Linked DNA regions of Homo sapiens. The protein of the gene in region 1 purifies or fractionates together with the protein of each later gene. This does not show direct contact. Each region holds a gene or a part of one and is shown in the gene's direction. Other genes may lie near its edges.

Region 1 (3,500 bases):
TGTGTCCCGGGCTCTCAGGCAAGTAGCTCAGGCCCCAGGCTCTTGGTTCCACCCTGTGCACCTGAGGGACATTCTTTGTGGAGTCCCCAGAGAAGGGCTGGGGGTCACCTGGGTGGGTAGGGAGGTGCGGGCTCCAGAGAGGAGAGACTGGCTGGTGCTGGGGTCCGAGTGGAGGGAGGGTGCTTCTGAGCCCGGTCAGCCAAGCCCCCAGCCCTAACCCTAGGTGCTGCCCGCAGGCCGGCAGTGCGAGTGGCGCTCCATTGACGGCAGCATCGTGCTGCCCCTGGCCCGGGGCTCCCCAAAGGCACTGGCCCTGGAGTACGCACTGTGCCTCACAGGCGACGGCTTGGCCCACCTGCAGGCCACCGACCCCCAGCAGCTGCTCCGCCTCATCCCCCATGTGCAGGTGTTCGCCCGTGTGGCTCCCAAGCAGAAGGTATGTGCACAGCCCTAGGGGTCAGGGGCACAGCGGTAGGCACGCAGCCCCTGCTCAGCCTGTCTCCGCCCATACAGGAGTTTGTCATCACCAGCCTGAAGGAGCTGGGCTACGTGACCCTCATGTGTGGGGATGGCACCAACGACGTGGGCGCCCTGAAGCATGCTGACGTGGGTGAGTGCTGTGGGCTAGGGTATTTCGTTTGTGGACGAGGTGTTGAGGACATGTCACTGAGCTAGAAAGACAGACCTGGCCCTTGGTGACAGCCACGGGGGCACTAATTCCTGTGAGGATGGGAGGGGGTGGCAAGGTCAGGGGCTTTGAGGGCAGGAAGGGATGCGAATATCCCAGGAACAGAGCAGGGCGGAGGCCAGAGGCCAGGAGAGAGGCAACAAGTTGGGAGAGTGACTCAGAAAACCCAGAGCTGAAGCCATGAAGATGGTTCATAGCCCCAGATCTCTGTCAAAAGCACACAGATGGCTGAGCACTGTGGCTCCTGCCTGGAATCCCAGTGCTTTGGGAGGCTGAGGCGGGAGGATCACTTGAGTCTGGGAGTTCAAGGCAGTGGTGTGATCCACTCTAACCTAAGTGACAGTGCAAGACCCTGTCTTTTTTTTTTTTGACGGAGCCTTGCTCTGTCACCCAGGCTGGAGTACAATGGCACGATCTGGGCTCACTGCAACCTCCATCTCCCGGGTTCAAGCGATTCTCCTGCCTCAGCCTCCCAAATAGCTGGGATTACAGGCACGTGCCACCATGCCTGGCTAATTTTTGTATTTTTAGTAGAGATGGGGTTTCACCATGTTGGCCAGGATGGTCTCCAATTCCTGACCTCAAGTGATCCACCCGCCTTGGCCTCCCAAAGTGCTAGGATTACAGGTGTGAACCACTGCATCCCACCGAACCCTGCCTTTTTTTTTTTTTTTTTTTTTTGAGACAGTTTCTCTCTTGTTGCCCAGGCTGGAGTGCAATAGCACGGTCTCAGCTCACTGCAACCTCTACTTCCCGGGTTCAAGCAATTCTCCTTCTTCAGCCTCCCAAGTAGCTAGGATTACAGGCGCCAGCCACCATGCCCATCTAATTTTTGTATTTTTAGTAGAGATGGGGTTTCACCATGTTGGCCAGGCTGGTCTCCAACTCCTGACTTCAGATGATGCGCCTGTGTTGGCCTCCCAAAGTGCTGGGATTACAGGTGTGAGCCACCTCACCTGGCCTTTTTTTCTTTTTTCTTTTTTTTTTTTTGCAAGAACTCAGGTGTTAAATTGAATTTTAAAGATCAATCTTACGTTGGTTTTTTTGCTTTTCCAATATTTATCTGCTTTTATCTACTAAAGCATTTATTGAGTGTTGTTTGCCTCCTAGAATCATGCTCCTTGGCTATTTCTTTTGAAATCAGTTTAGGTTGTTTTGTTTTGTTTTATTTTGAGACTGTCTCGCTCTGTCGCCCAGGCTGGAGTGCGGTGGTGTGATCTCATCTCACTGCAACCTCCGCCTCCCGGGTTCAAGCGATTCTCCTGCCTCAGCCTCCCGAGTAGCTGGAATTACAGGCACATGCCACCACCCCTGGCTAATTTTTGTATTTTTAGTAGAGACGGGGTTTCGCCGTATCAGCCAGGCTGGTCTCAAACTCCTGACCTCAGGTGATCCGCCCACCTCAGCCTTCCAAAGTGCTGAGATAACAGGTGTGAGCCACTGCGCTCGGCCAAAATCAGTTTAGTTTTGACCTATCTCGTGTTGTGTGTTTTTTCATTGCATTTGTTGTGGGGGTTTATTGTTGGTGGTTTGTTTTCTTAAAGTAGTTTGTAGAAAGCAACACGGGCACTCTCTGAGGTCTCCTTAGGGTGTCAGGTGAAATGGGGAAGTCTGGGAACTGTCCTCACGGGAGCCAGCTGGGGGACTTCAGGACCAGTGGCTCTGAAGCCAGCAATCTTCCCCTCCGTGGAGCCTGCTCCTCCGGGTCTGACACCCTCCTGCCCCCCAGGTGTGGCGCTCTTGGCCAATGCCCCTGAGCGGGTTGTCGAGCGGCGACGGCGGCCCCGGGACAGCCCAACCCTGAGCAACAGTGGCATCAGAGCCACCTCCAGGACAGCCAAGCAGCGGTCGGGGCTCCCTCCCTCCGAGGAGCAGCCAACCTCCCAGAGGGTGAGTCCCAAGAGGGGAGGTGCTGCACCCCATCCTGGCCAGGGCTGACAGCCTGCTGTCTACCCTGCAGGACCGCCTGAGCCAGGTGCTGCGAGACCTCGAGGACGAGAGTACGCCCATTGTGAAACTGGGGGATGCCAGCATCGCAGCACCCTTCACCTCCAAGCTCTCATCCATCCAGTGCAGTGAGTTGCCTGCCCCCGCTCCCCCTCCCTTCATTCCCCCCTTGGCACCCCTACCCACACCCACACCTGCCTCCCCACCACCCTGCAGTCTGCCACGTGATCAAGCAGGGCCGCTGCACGCTGGTGACCACGCTACAGATGTTCAAGATCCTGGCGCTCAATGCCCTCATCCTGGCCTACAGCCAGAGCGTCCTCTACCTGGAGGGAGTCAAGTTCAGTGACTTCCAGGCCACCCTACAGGGGCTGCTGCTGGCCGGCTGCTTCCTCTTCATCTCCCGTTCCAAGGTGGGCCCCAGAGGTGCTGGAAGGCCAGGGATGCATGGGCCTGCCAGGGCCAGGCTGATATAGGCACGGGAATTGTCATCCCCAAGTTACAGGACCCAGGGCCCCAGAGATGGGGGCTGTAGCTGGGATGGCTCAGGAAATGCTGGCAGGGCAGGTGTGGACTGAGGCTCCCAGACCCCTCCAGGTGGTACAGCTTGGCGTCCACACCTGTCCACAGGTAGGGGTCCCAGGGGTGGGCCCCACAGAGCCCCACAAGCAAGGAACAATCATCAAGAGGGTAAAAAAACAACTAAGTGGGTCATAGGCTACACAGGACAGGCTGGTGGACAGCTGGGGAGGCCTGTGCGACACCGACACTCAGGCCAAGGCGTAAAGAACCAGGGGGGCCAGCGGCCAGGAACTGGACACAAAGGCCCCAAACAGGCATGGGCTGACGCAGGGAGTCCCCGGTG
Region 2 (2,719 bases), about 32 Mb from region 1:
GTCACTCTGGCTGCTCTGTGAGAAACTCTAGTATGTAGTATAGAAGAGAAGATACCAGAATAGAAGATACACAGATAATCAAGCCAAGAGATGACTGACTCAGACTTAGTCCCAAGTAAGAATAATGAATCTGATGTGGAGAAATTGGGTTCCGGATACATCTTGAAGGTGGAGTCAACAGTATTTGCAAGTGGAGTGATGGAGTGCATGCAAGGCATGAGCAAAGATAGCTCACGGGCTCTGCTCGATAAGTGTCTCAGATGTCATAGGTGGGTCCACAGATATCATAGATGTCATGGATGTCCAAGAAGACCCCATAGATGTCATAGATGTCTATAGATGCCAATGATGATGTTCATGTGGTTAACTCAGAATTCAAACTTAAAAAATCAAATTGCCAATGATTAAAATTGCCATCCTTGAAGGAGAAGTCTATTTTCAAGTGTATATCAAACATTATTTTGGTTACCGTAAGTTTGAGGTGCCTCTGAGACATCCATGTGGAGATGACAAGTAGCAGGCAAGTGTCTGGAGCTCAGAAGAGGGCTCCACGTGGGAGACACAGAGGTTGGGAGCTTCCCTATCAACATCCAATAATCGATGAATCTACAAAGAAGAGAAGGGGTCCACAGACACAGCCCTGGAACCCTCCAGCATTTAATGTTAGGGAGATGAGGTGTAAATGGTGAGAAAGCTGAGAATGAATAGGAGCCAATGACCAGGAAATTGCAGGCTGTAGTGTTGGTGGCCAAGGGAAGATGGGGCTTCATGGAGGAGAGGTTGGTCATTTGTTTCAAATGCTGGTAAGTCTGGTAAGATGGAATCTGAGAAATGGCTATTTGAATGTAGCTAAGTGGTATGACAGCAAAGCAGATCTGATTTTTCTGCTGGAGGAAGATCTCTTGACTAGAGAGAGTTCAAGAGAGAATGGGAGGAGAAGAGGCAGAAACTGTGAGTTGAAGGACTCTTTTGAGAAACACTGCCCCAAATCTAGAACCAAGAAATGGGCCTGCACCAGCAAATGGTTGTACCCTGTAGACTTGCCATTTCTCCAGCATCTGCTCCTGTGTCTCTTATGATACCATGTTCCCTGTTTGTGTAGGGCTTTGCACCACTTGAACTAACTGCATTCCCATAGCTTCCCCTACCACACCATGAGCTCCACAAGGAAAAGCCTGGGTTTTATTAGACCTCCATCATTCTACTCTCTCCTGTTCATCTGCACACTGTCACAATTTGCAATTACCAGTCTGTTTCTGTCTTCATCCCCTGCAGTACTGGAAATCACAGGGCCCCTGCTCTGCTCTGCTCCCTCCTGAGGATCCAGTGCCCAGCACATAGGAGGTCCCAGAGACCTGGGACCGAGTTCAGGGTCAACAGATGTGTGACTTTGGAAATTACCTAAGCTCTCTGAGACCTAGTTTCCTGGTCTGTAAAATGGATTAAAATAATAGATGCCAAAGATGATGTCAGTGTAGCTGCCCAGAATTTTTCCACATTAGTCTCTGTGAGTATTCAAGAGAATTGCGAATCAATCAATACGTGCTACATGTGTTAGATAATGAATAAGTAGAGCCTTAATTAATTAACATTTGATGAAAGAATGAAAGAGTGAATAAATGTTCTGTCAGAGTCAAATTTACTTCATTGACCCTCTTTGCCTTCTCCTGGTCCCCCTCCTCACTGCCCTGCTCTAACCCCCTTCTTTCCTCTCCATAAGAAACACCAGAAGAAGTCCAAGTTACATGGCCCCACTGAAACCTCAAGCTGTTCAGGTGCCGCCCCTACTGTGGAGATGGATGAGGAGCTGCATTATGCTTCCCTCAACTTTCATGGGATGAATCCTTCCAAGGACACCTCCACCGAATACTCAGAGGTCAGGACCCAGTGAGGAACCCACAAGAGCATCAGGCTCAGCTAGAAGATCCACATCCTCTACAGGTCGGGGACCAAAGGCTGATTCTTGGAGATTTAACACCCCACAGGCAATGGGTTTATAGACATTATGTGAGTTTCCTGCTATATTAACATCATCTTAGACTTTGCAAGCAGAGAGTCGTGGAATCAAATCTGTGCTCTTTCATTTGCTAAGTGTATGATGTCACACAAGCTCCTTAACCTTCCATGTCTCCATTTTCTTCTCTGTGAAGTAGGTATAAGAAGTCCTATCTCATAGGGATGCTGTGAGCATTAAATAAAGGTACACATGGAAAACACCAGTCCTGGTGCAGTGAGAGTTCGGTGCATACTGGTTCCTTCCCCCTTGAACAGAAGTCATTAGTGATATTTGATCTCTGGAACTATATCAGCAACATGTCCATCTCACTTGCTGCTCAAAACCCCACCATATATGTCTTCCCTGACTTACCCTCCAACATCATCTCTCTCCACTCCTGAATCTTCTCTTTTCATCTCACCTGTCCCCTACTCGGATTTCTGCTTTCTTTATGTCCTGCTACAGGGAAAATCACATATTAGCATTTGGGGAATTTTCTAAAACTCAGAGCTGACCATAGTGAAAATAGTTCCCTAGATCCCCAACCCACAGGAATAATTTGAAGCTTCTCAATGTGACATTCTAAGTCAGAGATGGTCAACCAGTATTAGCAAAGGGCCAGATAGTAAACATGTTCAGTTTTGCAAGCAATGTGGTCTCTATTGCAACTATTTAATTCCGCCATTGTAGCAACAAAGCAGCCACAGACAATCTGAAAATGAA
Region 3 (3,500 bases), on another chromosome or scaffold:
TTATGAATCTGGGTGCTCCTGTATTGGGTGCATATATATTTAGGATAGTTAGCTCCTCTTGTTGAATTGATCCTTTACCATTATGTAATGGCCTTCTTTGTCTCTTTTGATCTTGTTGGTTTAAAGTCTGTTTTATCAGAAACTAGGACTGCAACCCCTGCCTTTTTTTATTTTCCATTTGCTTGGTAGATCTTCCTCCATCCTTTTATTTTGAGCCTATGTGTGTCTCTGCACGTGAGATGGGTTTCCTGAATACAGCACACTGTTGGGTCTTGACTTTATCCAATTTGCCAGTCTGTGTATTTTAATTGGAGCATTTAGTCCATTTACATTTAAAGTTAGTATTGTTATGTGTGAATTTGATCCTGTCATTATGATGTTAGCTGGTGATTTTGCTCGTTAGTTGATGCAGTTTCTTCCTAGTCTCGATGGTCTTTACATTTTGGCATGATTTTGCAGCGGCTGGTACCGGTTGTTCCTTTCCATGTTTAGCGCTTCCTTCAGGAGCTCTTTTAGGGCAGGCCTGGTGGTGACAAAATCTCTCAGCATTTGCTTGTCTGTAAAGTATTTTATTTCTCCTTCACTTATGAAGCTTAGTTTGGCTGGATATGAAATTCTGGGTTGAAAATTCTTTTCTTTAAGAATGTTGAATATTGGCCCCCACTCTCTTCTGGCTTGTAGGGTTTCTGCCGAGAGATCCGCTGTTAGTCTGTATTTTCTTATCTGTATTAGTTAGGGGTGGCTAACTGCTGTAACAAATAGATTCCACAGTGTATAATGACCCTAACACAATAGAAGTTGATTTCTCACTCTTACAGACAGGTCCAGATGACTCTAAGTTAGTGAGGTGGCAGCAGTGGAGGGCTCTGCACTACATAATTATTTAGGAATCAGGTTGATGGAGGCTTTGCTGTTTCTACCCGTGGCTTCCAAGGTCCCCGTGGGTGTTAGCATCCATGCTGCAGAAAAGAAATGATCACGGAGTTGAATAACAAGGGAGATTTTATAGACCAGGCCTTGAGCTAGCACAGTCCTAGTCACATTCCTTGGTTGGAACTCAGTTTATATGGCCACATTTAACTGTATGGGAGTCTGAAAAATGTGGTCCAGCTAAGGACCCAGAGGGAAGAGAAAATGGGTTTGGTGAACAGCTAGAGATGATCACATCATATTTAGGATATGTGTGATACCTCTGTATCCTTTTAATTAAGTTGCCATTTTTTTCTTCTACTTGTTTGTGTTGGCCTCTTTTATACCTTAATGATTTGGTGTTTTCATGATAGCCATCTTTAAAATAGTAGAAGAGATAAAAAGTGATTATTATTTTCTCAGGAAAATTGGGCCGATTTCCACCTATGATGCATCATCACCAGGCACCCTCAGATGGCCAGACTCCTGGGGCTCGTTTCCAGAGGTCTCACCTTGCCGAGGCATTTGCAAAGGCCAAAGGATCAGGTGGAGGTGCTGGAGGAGGAGGTAGTGGAAGAGGTCTGATGGGGCAGATTATTCCAATCTACGGTTTTGGGATTTTTTTATATATACTGTACATTCTATTTAAGGTAAGTAGAATCATCCTAATCATATTACATCAATGAAAATCTAATATGGCAATAAAAATCATTGTCTACATTAAAACTTCTTATAGTTCATAAAATTATTTCAAATCCATCATCTCTTTAAATCCTGCCTCCTCTTCATGAGGTACTTAGGATAGCCATTATTTCAGTTTCACATAAGAAATGTTTACTCAATGTTTAAGTGTTTTGCCCCAAAATTCACAACTAACAAGGCAGAACTAGGACTTGAACATGGATCTTTTGGTTCTTAATCCAGTGAGTGATACAATTCAATGCACTCCCCTGCCAAAAAAAAAAAAAAAAAAAAAAAAATTAACATCTTTACAGGCCGAAAAGGAATAAAGATTTTCTAAGAAGAGCTTTTATTATTGGGATTGGCACAGTGATTTCCAAATAGCCATTGTAAGGCCAAATAATGACACCACTTTATCCTGCTTGTTTCTCCACAGGAATTTGAGATGCTGTTTTTAATATTATCTCCAATAATTCTCCTGAGACAGAACTGTCCCTCCTGAAATTAAGCCTGATATTTCCTAGCTCTGGGGAGACATGGGTGTAGGTTCTTTAAAGCAGACCCCCAGTTGAGTTCCACCTCCAGGCAGGCCTTTGCAGGCCCCTGGCCCCTGTACTGTGAATTAGAGGCAGAAGACTCACTTTGCCCTCCTGTCTAGAGTAAGCTTAAATAAGATGAGTTCTTTCTCGCCCAGGAATTCTGCAGGCAGTCTGAGTTGAGTCTGTAAGAATGCCCATAGGGTGCCACACATCCCTTTTAGATGAGCATGAGCAAGGAAGATGACCTGTAGGGAGATTTTTTTTCCCTTGTGTTAGAAATGCTTGTTCTCTGGTGCCATAAAGAAGCAGCACTTGGACGTACATTTAATTTCCTCAGCAAGGCCATTTTTACTTTCTGCAGAAAGGGTACACTCACCAGCGGTTTTGCCGTGAGAGTACACCGAACAAAGGAGACAGGGTCATTTATAACCTGACGCATCCACCTTACTGCTGTGTCCGGTTTCCATTGGCTGGAACGGGACCTCACATTCTGTATTTGTGCTGATTGGCTAGCGACTTAGAACTTTTTAAAAGAGGCAAAGGCAGAGGAGAACAAAGGAAGGAGGAACTAACTTGTGGAATGCTGAGAAAGGTAAAAACACCTTCATATAAGGAAGAGGAACAGGCTATGACCTCATGCTTGCTTTGACAAGTATAAGCATGCCAGGGCAAATATTTAGGCTAAACTGTGGGAGCTAAGAACAGTTGATTTCTTTATTATGGCTAGCAGATATCTAAGCATGTTAGCACAGGTTCTTGAATAAATTTTGCTTCTAAGAGAAGTTACTATTCCTAATTATATGGGGAGTAAAGTCTCTTTGAAGAGGAATCTCTACTTTACTTTTTACACTTGTGCTTTGATAATTTTTTACTTGGAAACCTCATCTTTTGGCGTTTTTTTTTTTGAGCTATTTCTCTAGTGTTGCTATTTGATTTAATTTCTGACCTTCATTTTTGTTTCCCAACCTTTTTTTTTTGTTTGATATGAGGGGTTCCGTGACTGAGGTTCTGAGCTGCTGTTGATGTGCTATACCTCCTTCAATTCTCAGCTCTCAAAGGGGAAAACAACTGCAGAGGATGGGAAATGCTATACTGCCATGCCTGGAAACACCCACAGGAAAATTAGTAAGTGCCCCTTCTCAGTATATTCACAGGTATTATTGAGTCAAACAGTTTTATAGCCACAGGGACAGTCTGTGGGTATGTCTTAAAAGCATTTCTCAAAAGTTGCTCCAAATTAATCTGATGCCATTTTTGCCTTAGTTCTGGGAATTCTCAAAAGTTTTTATATTGATGTACTACAAAAAGTACAAAACCACCAGTTCACTTTTTAATATATTAGCAAATTAATATTTCACGTTTGGAATGACT
Region 4 (3,120 bases), on another chromosome or scaffold:
GAGGGGAAGTTTGAGTGCAAAGGGAACATGCCTTAGTAATATATTTCAGATTGGCAGCCATGGCAGAAGAATGTATATAATTTTCTAAAAGCTGGAGTAGGGGCAGTAAGCAGCATGGAAATGGTTGTGCACATATGAAAGTACAGAAGGTTTTTTAAACTTGGACAAGACACTTTATCACTGAGATCAAACAATTTTTTCCTGAATGGCACCAGCCCGGGCAAGTGGGGTTCATTCCTTCTGGGTATATACAGGAAAAAATGAGCAATAACGATGGGGTTTTAAGGGCTGCCTGCCAGGCTGCCAAATTTGTTGAAAGGTTTCTCTCGGTTATGGCATCTTTAGACTTTCGGCACCCCTTGCAATGGATAATGGTGGCCTTTGGTGGTAGTTTATCCACCCCCAGCAGCTTATGTATAAGTTTGCCATTTCTTATGGGAGTTCCTTTTGTAGTTAGGAAACCCTGTTCCTGCCAGATGAAGGCATGAGACTGTAGGACATGGTATGCATATTTGGAATGGGTGTAAATGTTGACCCTCTTTCCCTTTGCTAGGGTGAGGGCCCTGGTTAGGGCAACTAGCTTAGGCTGTTGAGAGGTAGCATGGGGTGGCAGAGCATTGGATTCTAGGAGTTTATTTTCAGCAATGATGGAATAGCCAGCTGCTGGACATGGCTCCCTAAAAGAGCTTCCATTAACTAACCGTGTATGTGTTCCCTGCAAAGGGGCATGTGAAATGTGTTGGAAGGAGGAGGAGAGGGAGTCTAAGAGGTCCAGACAGGAGTGAGAGAGCCTAGAATCGGAAGTGTTTACAGGGAGGAGGGTGGCTGGGTTGAGAGTTTTATATCTCTGGAAGGGGATTAGAGGGCTACCTAGGAATAAGGCATGTACCTGTTATAAGCAGGATGGTAGGAGGGATAGAAGGGATTGATGGTTTATGAGGTCCTGTAGGTAATGGGAAGATGCAATAGTAATGTGTTGGTAAAGAGGGAGTTTCCGTGCCTCTAAGGCCAGCGATGTGGCCACAGCCAAGATTTTTAGTCAGAGTGACCAGCCTTGGTCACACAAAACAACAGAGTCCAGTTGTTTTGAGAGAAGTGCAGTGGCTTGTGTGGCGTTGCCGTATGTTTGGCAGAGTAGTCCAAGGGCAAGGCCCTGGTCAGAATGTACATACAAAGTAACGGGCTTGGTGAGGTTGGGCAGTCCCTGTGCCAGGGCCATTAAAAGGGCATTTTTAAGTTTTTAAGTGGGAGTTGATGGGGCAAGCTGGGTTTAGGGGTTTTAGGATGGGCCCATGTGAGGCCCTGTTTAGTGGCTTGGCCAGCAAGTCAAAATTGGGAACTGACAGCCAGAAGTAACCCACAAGGCCCGAGAAGGAGAGAAGGTACTTTTTTGTGTGAGGAAAGGGCATGTCCCAAATTAGCTCCTTTCATTGGGTTGGGATGGCTCGAGAATTAGGGGTTAGGACAAACCCAAGGTAAGTAACTTTGGTTTGGGCTACCTGAAATATTGTGGGCTAGGCCCAAACTTTGGTTTGGGCTACCTGAGATTTCCTCTATTATGGAGGAAGTTTAAAACCTAAGTGGTGTGTTGGATGGACAGGTTAAGGAAGGGGCTACAGAGAAGGAGTTTGACATGTTGCAGGAGGGTGCTAGCAGCAAGGGAAAGTTCACCTAGGTCCTTGATGAGGGCAAGTCTGAATAGGTGGGGGCTATCCTGGAACCCCTGTAAGAGTACAGTCCACTCTAGTTGGGTGCACATGTGAGTATTAGGACTTGACCAAGTTAAAGCAAAAAGACTTCTGTAAGCCGGATTTAAGGGAATGGTGAAATAGGCATCTTTCAGTTCCAATACAGAGGAGTGTGTAGTAGATTTAGGAATATGGGAGAGTAGAGCATATTGGTTGAGGACCACTAGATGTATTGGTACCACTGCCTGGTCAACAACTTGGAGATCCTGGACAAAGGGGTAAGTCCCGTCTGTCTTTTGGAAAGCCAGAATAGGGGTGTTCTGGGGAGAGTTAACAGGCTTGAGAATATGAGCTTGTTAAAGTTTACAAATAATAGGTTTGAGGCCCCTAAGCACGGCTGGATTAAGGGGATATTGAGACTGAAAAAAGAAAATGGAGGAGTTTTGAAAGGTTATTTTAACTGGGATGTGATGTGTGGCTATTGTGGGTTTAGAAACATTCCAAGCTTTAGAATTAACAGAAGGTAACAGGGTGGATAATGAGGATGAGTAGGGGGAGAGGGAAGCGTTTGGGTGTCGGAGTAAAATAAAAGGGGTAGAATTGTAGGAGCCGCATTGCATGGAGGCCTGGAATTTACTTAATATGTCCCACCCCAAGATAGGGGTAGGGGACTGAGGGATAACCAGGAAACAGTGGGTGAAGGGGGCTGTTGAATAGGTTGCATAATAAAGGACGAGTCTGTGCCTAGAGGGGATTTTATTGATTCTCACAATAGAGATCGAAGAACAGAAAAAGGGTCTAGAATATTCTGGTAAAACCGAGTAACTAGTTGTCGTATTGAGTATCCAATAGGAAAGACATGGACTTACTAGAGACTGACAGAATTACCCTGGGTTCCGAGGTGGTGATGGCAGTAGGGGTGGTGGACTCTAGGCCCCACCTGTCTTCAGGTACAGGTGGTGAAGCTAGATGAAGAGTTTCACTGAGCACAGTCTGACTTCCAGTGTTGCTTGATATCACAGATGGGGCAAGGCTTCCAGAGTGTCACGGGATTAGGCCAGGCTTTTGCTCAGTGTCCCTGTTGGATGCACTTATAACAGGCTCCTGGAGTTGACTGTTGCCAAGTTGAGGAATTCTGTATGCCTTGGGAACCCTGTTGAGTGGCAGCTATCAGCATTTGATATTTAGCCTGGCCCTTTTTTAGGTTTGGGTTTTTTAGTTCTTCCTCTCTAATCTTATAGACCTTAAAGGCCACTTTGATTAAGTCTCTTTGGAGGTTTGAGGGCCATCCTCCACTTTTTAAAGTTTTTTTTCAAATGTCTGGGGCTGACTGGGAGATAAAGTGTAAATGGAGGTAGATTTTGCCCTTAATGGTATTAGGGCTTAAGGTGGCATATTTAGTTGTGACCTTTGAAAAGGCGGGAGAGGAAAA
Region 5 (3,500 bases), on another chromosome or scaffold:
ACGCCACTACACTCCAGCTTGGGCGACAGAGCGAGACTCCGTCTCAAAACAAACAAACAAACAGACAAAAATTGTTGTACCTAGAACAACTATGCAATATATAGCACATAGTGTTGCTTAATAAATATTTACTGAAGCTGGGCACAGTTGCACATGACTGTAGTCCCAGCTACTCAGGAGGCTGAGGTGAGAGGATTGCTTGAGCCTAGGAGTTCAAGTCAAGCCTGGGCAACATAGAAAGACCCCATCTCTAAAAATAAATGAATACGTAAATATTTTTTGAATGTGTAATTCAGTGAGATAATGCATGTACTGTATAATCAACACAGAACCTACCAAATTACACAATCGGTAAATTCCATAAATGTTGTGGTGTTTCCTTCTTTATCCCTTTCTCCTTTCCTTTCCCCCTTCTCCTTTTTTCTCGGTAACACTGAGAGGTTCTCTGCTGTAAATAAAGATGAGTTTGGTTTGAACATGCTTTGCTAAATAATTCAATTAGAAAATATTCGCCAGGCTATTGGAGATACAATCTTGAGATCTACATTTGGGCGTTCTTGGCATAGAAGTGGTCCTACAGCTGTGTGCAGGAAGGCTGTATATTTTAACAAGAGGAACAGAGTGTGCTGTTGAGAATAGAGGACAATGAATTAAGAATCGGGCCTAGAAAACACTGGCAATTATGGGTTGGAGAAAGCAGATAAGGGAGCAAAAGAAACAGAAGGAAGGTTTGAGAGGTAAAAGAGAATGAGAGTAGAAAGTTAAAGGAGGTGAGGGAAGGTTCAAGAAAGATTTGGGAATTAGTGGAATCAACAGCTTTGGTGTGACAAGGAGAATAAGAATGGTGAAGTGGTCACTGTGATCACATCAGGGACTTTCAAGACTGTTTCTCACCAAAATGAGTGGATCTGTCATCAAATGAAGGAGAAATAGGGTTTTGGACAGCAAACAACAGAACCAAAAAACCAAAAACCATCAGCTGTTCACTGCAGCTACTACCACTTGACTACTTCTATTTTTAATTTTCATTTTATTTTATTTTACTGATTTTATTTTTGAGACAGAGTCTCACTCTCTCGCCCAGACTGGATGCAGTGGCACGATCTCAGCTCACTGCAACCTCCACCTCCCAGGTTCAAGCGATTCTCCTGCCTCAGCCTCCTGAGTAGCTGGGATTACAGGCGTGCACAACCACGCCAAGCTACTTGTATTTTTAGTAGAGACAGGGTTTCACCATGTTGGCCAGGCTGGTCTTGAATTCCTGACCTCAAGTGATCCGCCCATCTTGCCCTTCCAAAATGCTGGGATTACGGGCATGAGCCACCACACCTGGCCTTGACTTCTTCTAAATCTTGGTGGGGAAATCCTGGACTTTAGAGTTATGCAAGTATAGAATTAAACCCAAGTTCTCTCACTGCTATATTTAACGCATTGAACCTAATAGGTCAAGTGTGGAAAATAAGACCTACCTGTCAAGCTTGTTGAGAGATGCAAGTAAGAGAACATCTATAAAGAGTTTACCTTACAGCCTGACACATAAGGCTCAATAAATGCTAATTTCCTGGCCTATTTCTCATCTTTGCAAGTGACTTGCGCGTGTGCGTGCGTGCATGTGTGTGTGTCTGTGTGTGTACAGAGGTTGGGAGTGGGGAGAAAGGGCAGAAGATTGCAGGATGAACTGGATATGAGTGGCTATAAACTATTTGATAGAAAAGCTTGGTTGGAGAAAAATGAGATTATCAGAGAGAGTAAAGTGGCAAGGTAAAGTTATTTTTTTCTAGATAAGGAACTCTGAGTTTGAAGGCAAAGGGGAAAGAGCCAGTAGAAGGAAGTTGGAGCTATTGGAGAAGGAGGAAATCAAAGATGAGGAAGAGATGGGGATCAAGAGTCAAGTTGGGGTGGTCAAAGAAAATACCTGTTTTCAGACCACTCATGCTGGGGAAGGCCAGCCACTGTTGTAAGGACACTCAGATGGCCCATGGAGAGGCCCATGTGGAGAGAAACTGAGTCAGCATTACATGAGTGAACCATCTTGGAAGCAGATCTAGCCTCATTCAAGCCTTCAGATGACTGCAGCCCTGACATCTTTAGAGATCTTGAAACAAAACCAGCTAAGCCACTCTCACACTTCTGACTCAGAGAAACTATTTATAGGAATCCCACAGAAATGTTGAGAAAATTCTATTCACAGAATACTAAAAGGTTCAGAAACCATAAAAACAAAAAAACACTTTTGGACCTCCAAATTCTATAGGCAGGAAGCAGGTAGAGAAGACTACTCACCACCCAGCTAAGGCACTCCCAGTTTATTGACGCACATAATTGTGTGAGATAATAACTTTTTTATTGTTTTAAACCTTTACTTCTTGGGTAATTTGTTACATCACAACAGATAATTCATATTCTTGTACTGTGACATCTGATATATTCCAGACTTGCAGGAAACTAACAGTAAAAAGGATCCCCAAATTTAGGAAAACACTGTTTTTACAGTAGCCTTGATAACAAGTAGCCACCAGAACTAGTTTTAAACATGTTCAATCAACAACTGCCTAAGTGAATACATTTTTGAAAGCCATCATCAGAGTGCCAGACCCTGATTGGCCAAAAGTCAACTCACACTAGTGTGAAAGTCAGCCAAACAGGGACAGAGCCACTCACCTGATTGACTTTCAGAAACAAAGGACTGACTGGATGGGTTAATTTCCAAAAACATGTTTGCTGAGTGTTATGGTATGGTTTGTTTTCCCCCCAAATCCATATGTTGAAATTTCAGCCCCCAAAGTGATGGCATTAGGTGAGGCTTTATGTCATGACGGTGGAGTCCTCAGGAATGGGATTAGTGCCCCCATAAAAGAGACCCAGAGGCTAGGCTCAGTGGCTCACACCTGTAATCCCAGCACTTTGGAAGGCCAAGGCGGGCGGATCATGAGTTTGAGAGCAGCCTGGCCAATATGGCGAAACCCCATCTCTACTAAAAATACAAAAATTAGCTGGGCATGGTGGCGTGTGCCTGTAGTCCCAGCTAATTGGGAGGCTGAGGCAGGAGAATTGCTTGAACTTGGGAGGCAGAGGTTGCAGTGAGCCAAGATTGCGCCACTGCACTCCAGCCTATGCGACAGAGTGAGACTCCATCTCAAAAAAAAAAAAAAAAAAAAAAAGAGAGAGACCCAGAGAGCTAGTCAGCTCCTTCAGCCACGTGAAAACACAGTGAGAAGGCACCATCTATGAACCAGAAAGTGAGTCCTACCAAACCCCTAAACTTGATCTTGGATTTTTTGCTCCCAGAACTGTACAAAATAAATTCTTGTTGTTTATAAGCTACCTAGTCTATGGTATTTTCTTATGGCAGCCCAAATGCACTAAGACACTGAGGGAGATTGTTGTTGATCAATTGAACAGGTTTAAAACTGGTTCTATTGTCTACTTACCATGACTACAAAATAACCCATCTTTTCCTAAGTTTGTGGGAATGTTTTGTAGTCTCAAAGGATAGTGTT
Region 6 (3,500 bases), on another chromosome or scaffold:
GAAAAGAGCATGAGTTCTATAAATCGGTCCTAGGTCTGAGTCCTGGTTCCAACATTAATTTGCTCTTTGACCCTGGATAAGTTACTCTGCAAGTCTAAGATTCCTCATCTGTAAAGTGTTGATAATTATAACTCCCTCACAGGGATTACTGTGAATATTTAAATAAGACAATGAATGCAACATGAATCTTGCTTTCATGGAGCGTATAGTCCAGTGGGAGACACAATTAGGAAGTAAACATATAGAATTACAGCTTGTGCCAGGTTCTCTGAGGGAAAAAGAACACTGTTCTCTTAAGAAGAATAATAAAGGAAGGGAGATGTTTTAACTTGGATGATCAGAGAAAGCTTCTAAAGTGGTGATACTAGACTGAGACCTGAATGACAAGGAGGGAAGTCAGTAACATAAAGGCGGGCTCCTCGGCACTGCCCAGGAGTTCTGGAGTATTTCCCCAGTAAACTAGTGTTCCTAACAGTAGTTTCAGATGTTCTTTGCTCTTCTCAGACTTTCTACCATTTATCTTAGGAAGAAAATTGAAGCCATCAGATAAAATTCCCTTAACTCCATGTAAACCACTGCTTCCAATTTTTCTGAGTGATCTTTTTTTTTTTTTTAATAGAGATGGAGTCGCACTATGTTGGCCAGGTTGGTCTTGAACCCCTGGCCTCAAGGAGTCCTCCTGCCTTGGCCTCCCAAAGTGCTAGGATTATAGGCGTGAGCCACCACATCCAGCCTATCTTTTTTTTTAATTAAAAAAAATTATTTTTTGAGACAAGGTCTGATTCTGTTTCCCAGGCTGGAGTGTAGTGGCATGATCATAGCTCACTGCAGCCTTGAACTCCTGGACTCAAGCAGTCCTCCTGCCTCAGCCTCCTAAGTAGCTGAGATCACAGGTGCATGCCACCAACATCTGACTAATTTTTAAAAATTTGTAATGGAGATGATGTCTTTCTATGTTGTGCAGGCTGGTCTTGAACCCCTGGGCTCAAAGCAGTCCTCCCACCTCAGCCTCCCAATTACAGGAATGAGCCACCACACTCAGTTTTTTGTTTTTTGTTTTTTGTTTTTTCCCAGTCAGGGTCTTACTCTGTCACCCAAGCTAGAGTGCAATCATAGCTTACTATAATCTCAAACTCCTGGGCTCAAGCGACCCTTCGACCTCAGCCTCCCGACTAGCTAGCTAGGACTACAGGTATGTACCACCATGCCCGACTAATTAAAATTTTTTGTTGTTGGGATGGAGTCTTGCAATGTTGCCCAGGCTGGTCTCAAACTCCTGGCCTCGGGTAATCCTCTTGTCTCATCCTCCCAAAGTACTGGGATTATAAGCATGAGCCACTGTGCCTGCTCATTATTTCTTTAAGTACTTTTTCAGCCACACTGTCTTTCTCCTGTCCTTGAGATATTCCAGTGACACAAATATAGCTTTAGGTTTTTGGTTTTGGTTTTTTTCCCATTCTGTTCTTGTTATTTAAATTAGGTAATTTATGTTGTTTTATCTTCTAGTTCACCAGTCTTTTTTCTCTGTTCTCTATTTTACTGTTGACCTCAAGCATTATTATATTTTTCACTTCTAAAATTTTTATTTGATTCTTCTTTATATCTTCTCTTGCCTTGCTGAGTCTGTTTTCATTTTTTTCTTTTTTTCCTTATTAAATTTTTTTTAAATTTTTTTTTTTTTTTTGAGATGGAGAATCTTGCTGTGTCGCCCAGGCTGGAGTGCAGTGGTGCGATCTTGGCTCACTGCAACCCCTGTCTCCCAGGTTCAAGTGATTCTTCTGTCTCAACCTCCTGGGTAGCTGGGACTACAGGCGTGTGCCACCATGCCCAGCTAATTTTTGTATTTTTAGTAGAGATGGGGTTTCGTCATGTTGGTCAGGCTGGTCGCGAACTCCTGACCTCATGATCTGCCTGCCTTGGCCTCCCAAAGTGCCACCGCGCCTGGTCTGTTACTCATTTTTTTTCAAGCATATTTGTTTACTTTTGAAAATTTAATTGCATTTTTTTATGGCTCCTTTAAAATCGTTGTCAAATAATTTTAACATTTCTGTTACCTTACTGTTGGCATATATTGATTATCTCTTTTTGAGTTTGAAGTCTTACTGGTTCTTAGTATGATTCAGAGTAATTTTTTATTGAAACCAGGACATTTTAGGTGATATGAGACTTTTCTGTTTTAGTTTGAGTCACTGACGTCACTCCAGCAGTGGAAGGTAGGAGCACTGCCTTGTTACTGCCAGATTGGGGTTAATGTTCTTTGTAAAAATTTTTATAGGCCAGGCACAGTGGCTCACGCCTGTAATCCCAGCACTTTGGGAGGCCGAGGCGGGCGGATCACGAGGTCAGGAGATCAAGACCATCCTGGCTAACACGGTGAAACCCCGTCTCTACTAAAAATACAAAAAATTAGCTGGGCATGGCAGCGTGTGCCTGTAGTCCCAGCTACTCCAGAGGCTGAGGCGGGAGAATGGTGTGAACCCGGGAGGTAGAGCTTGCAGTGAGCCCAGATCGCGCCACTGCACTCCAGCCTGGGTGAAAAGCGAGACTCCGTCTCAAAAAAAAAAAAATTATTTTATTTTATTTATTTTATGTTATTTTATTTTATGTTATTTTTATTTTTTATGTTATTTTATGTTATATTATTTTGTTATGTTTTATGTTGTTATTTTATTTTATTTTGTTATTTTATGTTGTTTTGTTATTTTATTTTATGTTATGTTATTTTGTTACGTTATGTTATTTTATTTTATTTTGTTATTTTATGTTATTTTATTTTGTTATTTTATTTTATGTTGTTATTTTATGTTATTTTATTTTGTTATTTTATTTTATGTTATGTTGTTATTTTATTTTATGTTATGTTATATTTGAGGTGGAGTTTCGCTCTTGTTGCCCAAGCCGGAGTGCAATGGTGCGATCTCAACTCACTGCAACCTCCGTCGCCTGGGATCAAGCGATTCCCCTGCTTCAGCCTCCCAAGTAGCTGAGATTACAGGCAGGCACCATCAGGCCTGGCTAATTTTTTGTGTTTTAGTAGAGACGGGGTTTCACCATGTTGGCCAAGATGGTCTCGATCTCCTGACCTTGTGATCCATCCGCCTCGGCCTCCCAAAGTGCTGGGATTACAGGTGTGAGCCACTATGCCCAGCCAGATTAGGGTTAATGTTCTTTCTGGTTCCCCACTTGGCTTCTCTTGACACCCAAGGTGCAGGGCTATGCAGAGGTTGGAATTCTGACTCCCCACTAGGATTCTATTGATACTTCCCTAAATGAGAGGGGTATGGGTATGTCATTTCTGCTTCCCAGTTGGCTTCTACTGACACCATGTTGGGAGGAGGTGGCCTCATTACTGTTGGGCAGTTGTGAAAGTCCTGACTTTCCACTAGACTTCCTATGACAGCACCCCAGCAGGGAAGCAGGTAGAGAACTTCATCGCTGCTTGATGAGTGTTGAAGTTCAGGCTCCCCAGAAGGTATCTACTAACATCGTGGTGGGGGATA
Region 7 (3,500 bases), on another chromosome or scaffold:
TTGTGACAAGTACGGAGTAGAATTCATTTCAAATAGGATTATAGGCATCATTAAGATTTTTTAAAAACTTAGATAAAAGAAAACGTTCTTAACTATACTATTGGCTATTTTTCCTCTCTCTCTCTCTCTCTCTCTTTTTATAGCAGAGACACAGACACTGGGGAGCCTCCCTGATATAAATCTAACAGTAAGTAACTTTTTTTGTGAGCTATGTTGTACTCAACTTGGAGGGGAAATCATGGCTTTAGACTTCCTTCATGCCCACCTTGTCCTTGGGGTAAAAAGCCTTAAGTTCCCTTAGCTTCAGATTCCTGGGCTGTAACATGTTGATGATGACAGTTCTAACCTCATAGGCCTGCTGTAATGAAGGACTGACATGATGTGTGTAAAGTGCCTGGCATATAGTAAGAGCTTGAAAACCACAAAGAAGAAACATTAGCATTTTGTCCCTCTTATTCTTCAATTTCACAACTGTCTACCCTGTGGAAGGTTCAAAGATTCTTCATCTCCCTAGAATACCATTCTTCTTGCTTCCATTGCAATCCTAATGGGAAAGAGTATTTAAATTTATCTCTTTAAATATGGCAAGACACCAGTCAGGAATATTCAAAGTGAAGAGGTTTTTTTTTTTTTTTTTTAGACAGAATTTCGCTCTTGTTGCCCAGGCTGGAGTGCAAGGGTGTGATCCTGGCTCACCTCAACCTCCGCCTCCCGGGTTCAAGCGATTCTCCTGCCTCAGCCTTCCGAGTAGCTGGGATTACAGGCATGAGCCACCACACCCGGCTAATTTTTTTATTTTTAGTAGAGACGGAGTTTCACCACATTGGCCAGGCTGATCTTGAACTCCTGACCTCAGGTGATCCACCTGCCTCGGCCTCCCAAAGTGCTGAGATTGCAGGCGTGAGCCATGGCACCTGGCCTAATTTTGTATTTTTAGTAGAGACAGGGTTTCTCCATGTTGGTCAGGCTGGTCTTGAACTCCTGACCTCAGGTGATCCGCCCAACTTGGCCTCCCAAAGTGCTGGGATTACAGGCATGAGCCATGGTGCCCAGCCAGTTTTATGTATTTAACTATAAATAAAGCCATACCTTAATAAACCTCAATTTTACTGTCCCTGCTACCTTCTCAGAATAAAAGAAAAACTGGCTGGGCGCAGTGACTCACGTCTGTAATCCCAGCACTTTGGGAGGCTAAGTAGGGTGGATCACCTGTCAGGGGTTTGAGACCAGCCTGGTCAACATGGTGAAACCCCATCTCTACTAAAAATACAAAAAATTAGCCAGGTATGGTGGTGTGTGCCTGTGTAGTCTCAGCTACTCAGGAGGCTGAGACAGGAGAATCGCTTGAATCCAGGAGGTGGAGGTTGCAGTGAGCTGAGGTCGCGCCACTGCACACCAGCCTGGGCAACAAGAGCGAAATTCCCTCATAAAAGAAAAACCACTAGAAGGCAAGCTTGCAGCAATGACTTAAAAATTCTTTGAGGAGGCCGGGCACAGTGTCTCATGCCTGTAATCCCAGCACTTTAGGAGGCCAAGGTGGAAGGAATGCTTGAGACCAGGAGTTTGAGACTAGCCTGGGCCACATAGTGACACCCTGTCTCTACAAAAAATATTTTTTAAAATTTGGCCAGGCATGGTGCTGCAAACCTGTAGTTCCAGCTACTTGGGAGGCTGAGGCAGGAGGATCACTTGAGCCCAGTAGGTTGAGGCTGCATTGAGCTGTGATCATGCCCCTGCACTCCATCCTAGGTGACAGGGCAAGGCCTTGTCTCAAAAAAAAAAAAAAAAAAAAAATTACTTGAGGGCATATCCAGGAGCCCACATTTATTTGACTCAGTTTCTTGCTTGTGTATTCACAACTGATGCTCAGCATCTTGTATTTGCTCCTTCTCTCTTTGCAATCAAACAGTGCTTTTTAAGGACCTGTATGTGCCCACAATGCTTAATGCACAATATCTTGCATATAGGACTCCTGTTATTGCAGGAGTAATGTGTATTGAATCAATTTGTAAATGTATATTGAATAAATGGAAGATTTAACTTCCTTAAATTCATTGTTTTAAAAATGCTTATAATTATATGTGTGTGTGTGTGTGTGTGTGTGTGTGTGTGTGTGTTTTGTATAAATGGGGTCTCAATATTATTAGGCTGGTCCCTAACTCCTGGTCTCAAGTGATCCTCCCATCTCAGCTTCCCAAAGTGCTGGGATTATAGGTGTGAGCCTGGCCTATAATTATTATTTATTTATTAATTTATTATTTATTTTTGAGATGGAGTTTTGCTCTTGTCGCCCAGGCTGGAGTACAATGGCACAACCTTGGCTCACTGCAACCTCTGCCTCCTGGGTTCAAGCGATTGTCCTGCCTCAGCCTCCCAAATAGCTGGGACTATAGGTGCCCGCCACCACACCTGGCTAATTTTTGTATTTTTAGTAGAGATGGGGTTTCACCATGTTGGCCAGGCTGGTCTTGAACTCCTGACCTCGTGATCTGCCTGCCTTGGCCTCCCAAAGTGCTGGGACTACAGGCGTGAGCCACCGCACCTGGCCTAATCATTGTTTTTAAAGAGAGAAAAAGAGAGAACCCATAGACTGAAATTTTAGAAACAGGATTTATTTTGTGTGGCTCTCAGTTATCAGAAAATCAAGTTAACTAGAGCAATAGCAATAATAGCTACGATTGATTGAACATTTATTATGTACCAGGCCCTGTACTAAGCATTTTATATTTTCTCTCACTTAGTTTTCCTGATAACTCTACAGGATTACTCAGCCCTTAGTGGCAGAGCTGGGAATTTTTTTTTTTTTTTTTTTTTTGAGATGGAGTCTCGCTCTGTTGCCCAGGTTGGCGTGCAGTGGCATGATCTCAACTCGAGTACTCCAGTCTTTGCCTCCTGGGTTTAAGTGATTCTCCTGCCTCAGCCTCCCCACTAGCTAGGATTACAGGCATGTGTTACCACGCCTGGCTAAGTTTTGTATTTTTAGTAGAGACGGGGTTTCACCATGTTGTCCAGGCTGGTCTCAAACTCCTGATGTCAGGTGATCCGCCTGCCTAGGCCTCCCAAAGTGCTGGGATTACAGGCATTAGCCACCGCGCCCGGCCTCAGAGCTGGGATTTGAATCCACGACCGTCTGGCTGTAAAGTCTTGGCTATTGAATCACTGTCTTTTTGTGAAAAATAGACGTTTCATAGCAAGACACTAAATGTAAACTACTCTAAAACTCTCTGGGGAATCTTAGGGGATCTTGAACCAACAAGACTCCACTCTAAAGCCAATTTTTGCAGGGGCAGGGAAAGGGTCTTAAGAGCTCCTTCTCTCTTTTTTTTTTTTTTTTTTTAAGAGCTCCTTCTCTACCCACAACACAGAAGGGCACATTTTGTTTCCTTGCTAACTCCAAAGGTTAAGGGAGACCCTTTCTTGGGTTGGCTTGAGTGTTGGCTACAAGGTGACAGATCAAAGGTGATTTGAAGGACTCAGCCATCCTGTGATGTTGTAAAAGG

What was found.
Region 2: the proteins of ATP13A1 (region 1) and CD33 purify together in Homo sapiens (co-immunoprecipitation; one large-scale study listed by IntAct). This does not show direct contact.
Region 3: the proteins of ATP13A1 (region 1) and RIC3 purify together in Homo sapiens (co-immunoprecipitation; one large-scale study listed by IntAct). This does not show direct contact.
Region 4: the proteins of ATP13A1 (region 1) and SPANXN3 purify together in Homo sapiens (co-immunoprecipitation; one large-scale study listed by IntAct). This does not show direct contact.
Region 5: the proteins of ATP13A1 (region 1) and TMEM169 purify together in Homo sapiens (co-immunoprecipitation; one large-scale study listed by IntAct). This does not show direct contact.
Region 6: the proteins of ATP13A1 (region 1) and ZYG11B purify together in Homo sapiens (affinity purification with mass spectrometry; 2 studies listed by BioGRID and IntAct, with this or other methods). This does not show direct contact.
Region 7: the proteins of ATP13A1 (region 1) and HAVCR2 purify together in Homo sapiens (co-immunoprecipitation; one large-scale study listed by IntAct). This does not show direct contact.

Annotation. Positions count from the first base shown.
Region 1 is NC_000019.10:19,646,677-19,650,176, reverse strand, and holds part of ATP13A1 (endoplasmic reticulum transmembrane helix translocase), read left to right. Parts: intron 1-236; coding exon 237-436; intron 437-513; coding exon 514-610; intron 611-2,417; coding exon 2,418-2,578; intron 2,579-2,648; coding exon 2,649-2,763; intron 2,764-2,851; coding exon 2,852-3,048; intron 3,049-3,500. UniProt on the Homo sapiens protein: Endoplasmic reticulum translocase required to remove mitochondrial transmembrane proteins mistargeted to the endoplasmic reticulum.
Region 2 is NC_000019.10:51,237,798-51,240,516, forward strand, and holds the end of CD33 (myeloid cell surface antigen CD33 isoform 1 precursor), read left to right. Parts: intron 1-1,720; coding exon 1,721-1,891; 3' UTR 1,892-2,219; downstream 2,220-2,719. UniProt on the Homo sapiens protein: Sialic-acid-binding immunoglobulin-like lectin (Siglec) that plays a role in mediating cell-cell interactions and in maintaining immune cells in a resting state.
Region 3 is NC_000011.10:8,138,026-8,141,525, reverse strand, and holds part of RIC3 (protein RIC-3 isoform a precursor), read left to right. Parts: intron 1-1,332; coding exon 1,333-1,559; intron 1,560-3,178; coding exon 3,179-3,254; intron 3,255-3,500. UniProt on the Homo sapiens protein: Molecular chaperone which facilitates proper subunit assembly and surface trafficking of alpha-7 (CHRNA7) and alpha-8 (CHRNA8) nicotinic acetylcholine receptors.
Region 4 is NC_000023.11:143,511,356-143,514,475, reverse strand, and holds part of SPANXN3 (sperm protein associated with the nucleus on the X chromosome N3), read left to right. Parts: intron 1-3,120.
Region 5 is NC_000002.12:216,088,419-216,091,918, forward strand, and holds part of TMEM169 (transmembrane protein 169), read left to right. Parts: intron 1-3,500.
Region 6 is NC_000001.11:52,764,453-52,767,952, forward strand, and holds part of ZYG11B (protein zyg-11 homolog B), read left to right. Parts: intron 1-3,500. UniProt on the Homo sapiens protein: Serves as substrate adapter subunit in the E3 ubiquitin ligase complex ZYG11B-CUL2-Elongin BC. Acts to target substrates bearing N-terminal degrons for proteasomal degradation with the first four residues of substrates being the key recognition elements.
Region 7 is NC_000005.10:157,095,545-157,099,044, reverse strand, and holds part of HAVCR2 (hepatitis A virus cellular receptor 2 precursor), read left to right. Parts: intron 1-143; coding exon 144-187; intron 188-3,500. UniProt on the Homo sapiens protein: Cell surface receptor implicated in modulating innate and adaptive immune responses. Generally accepted to have an inhibiting function.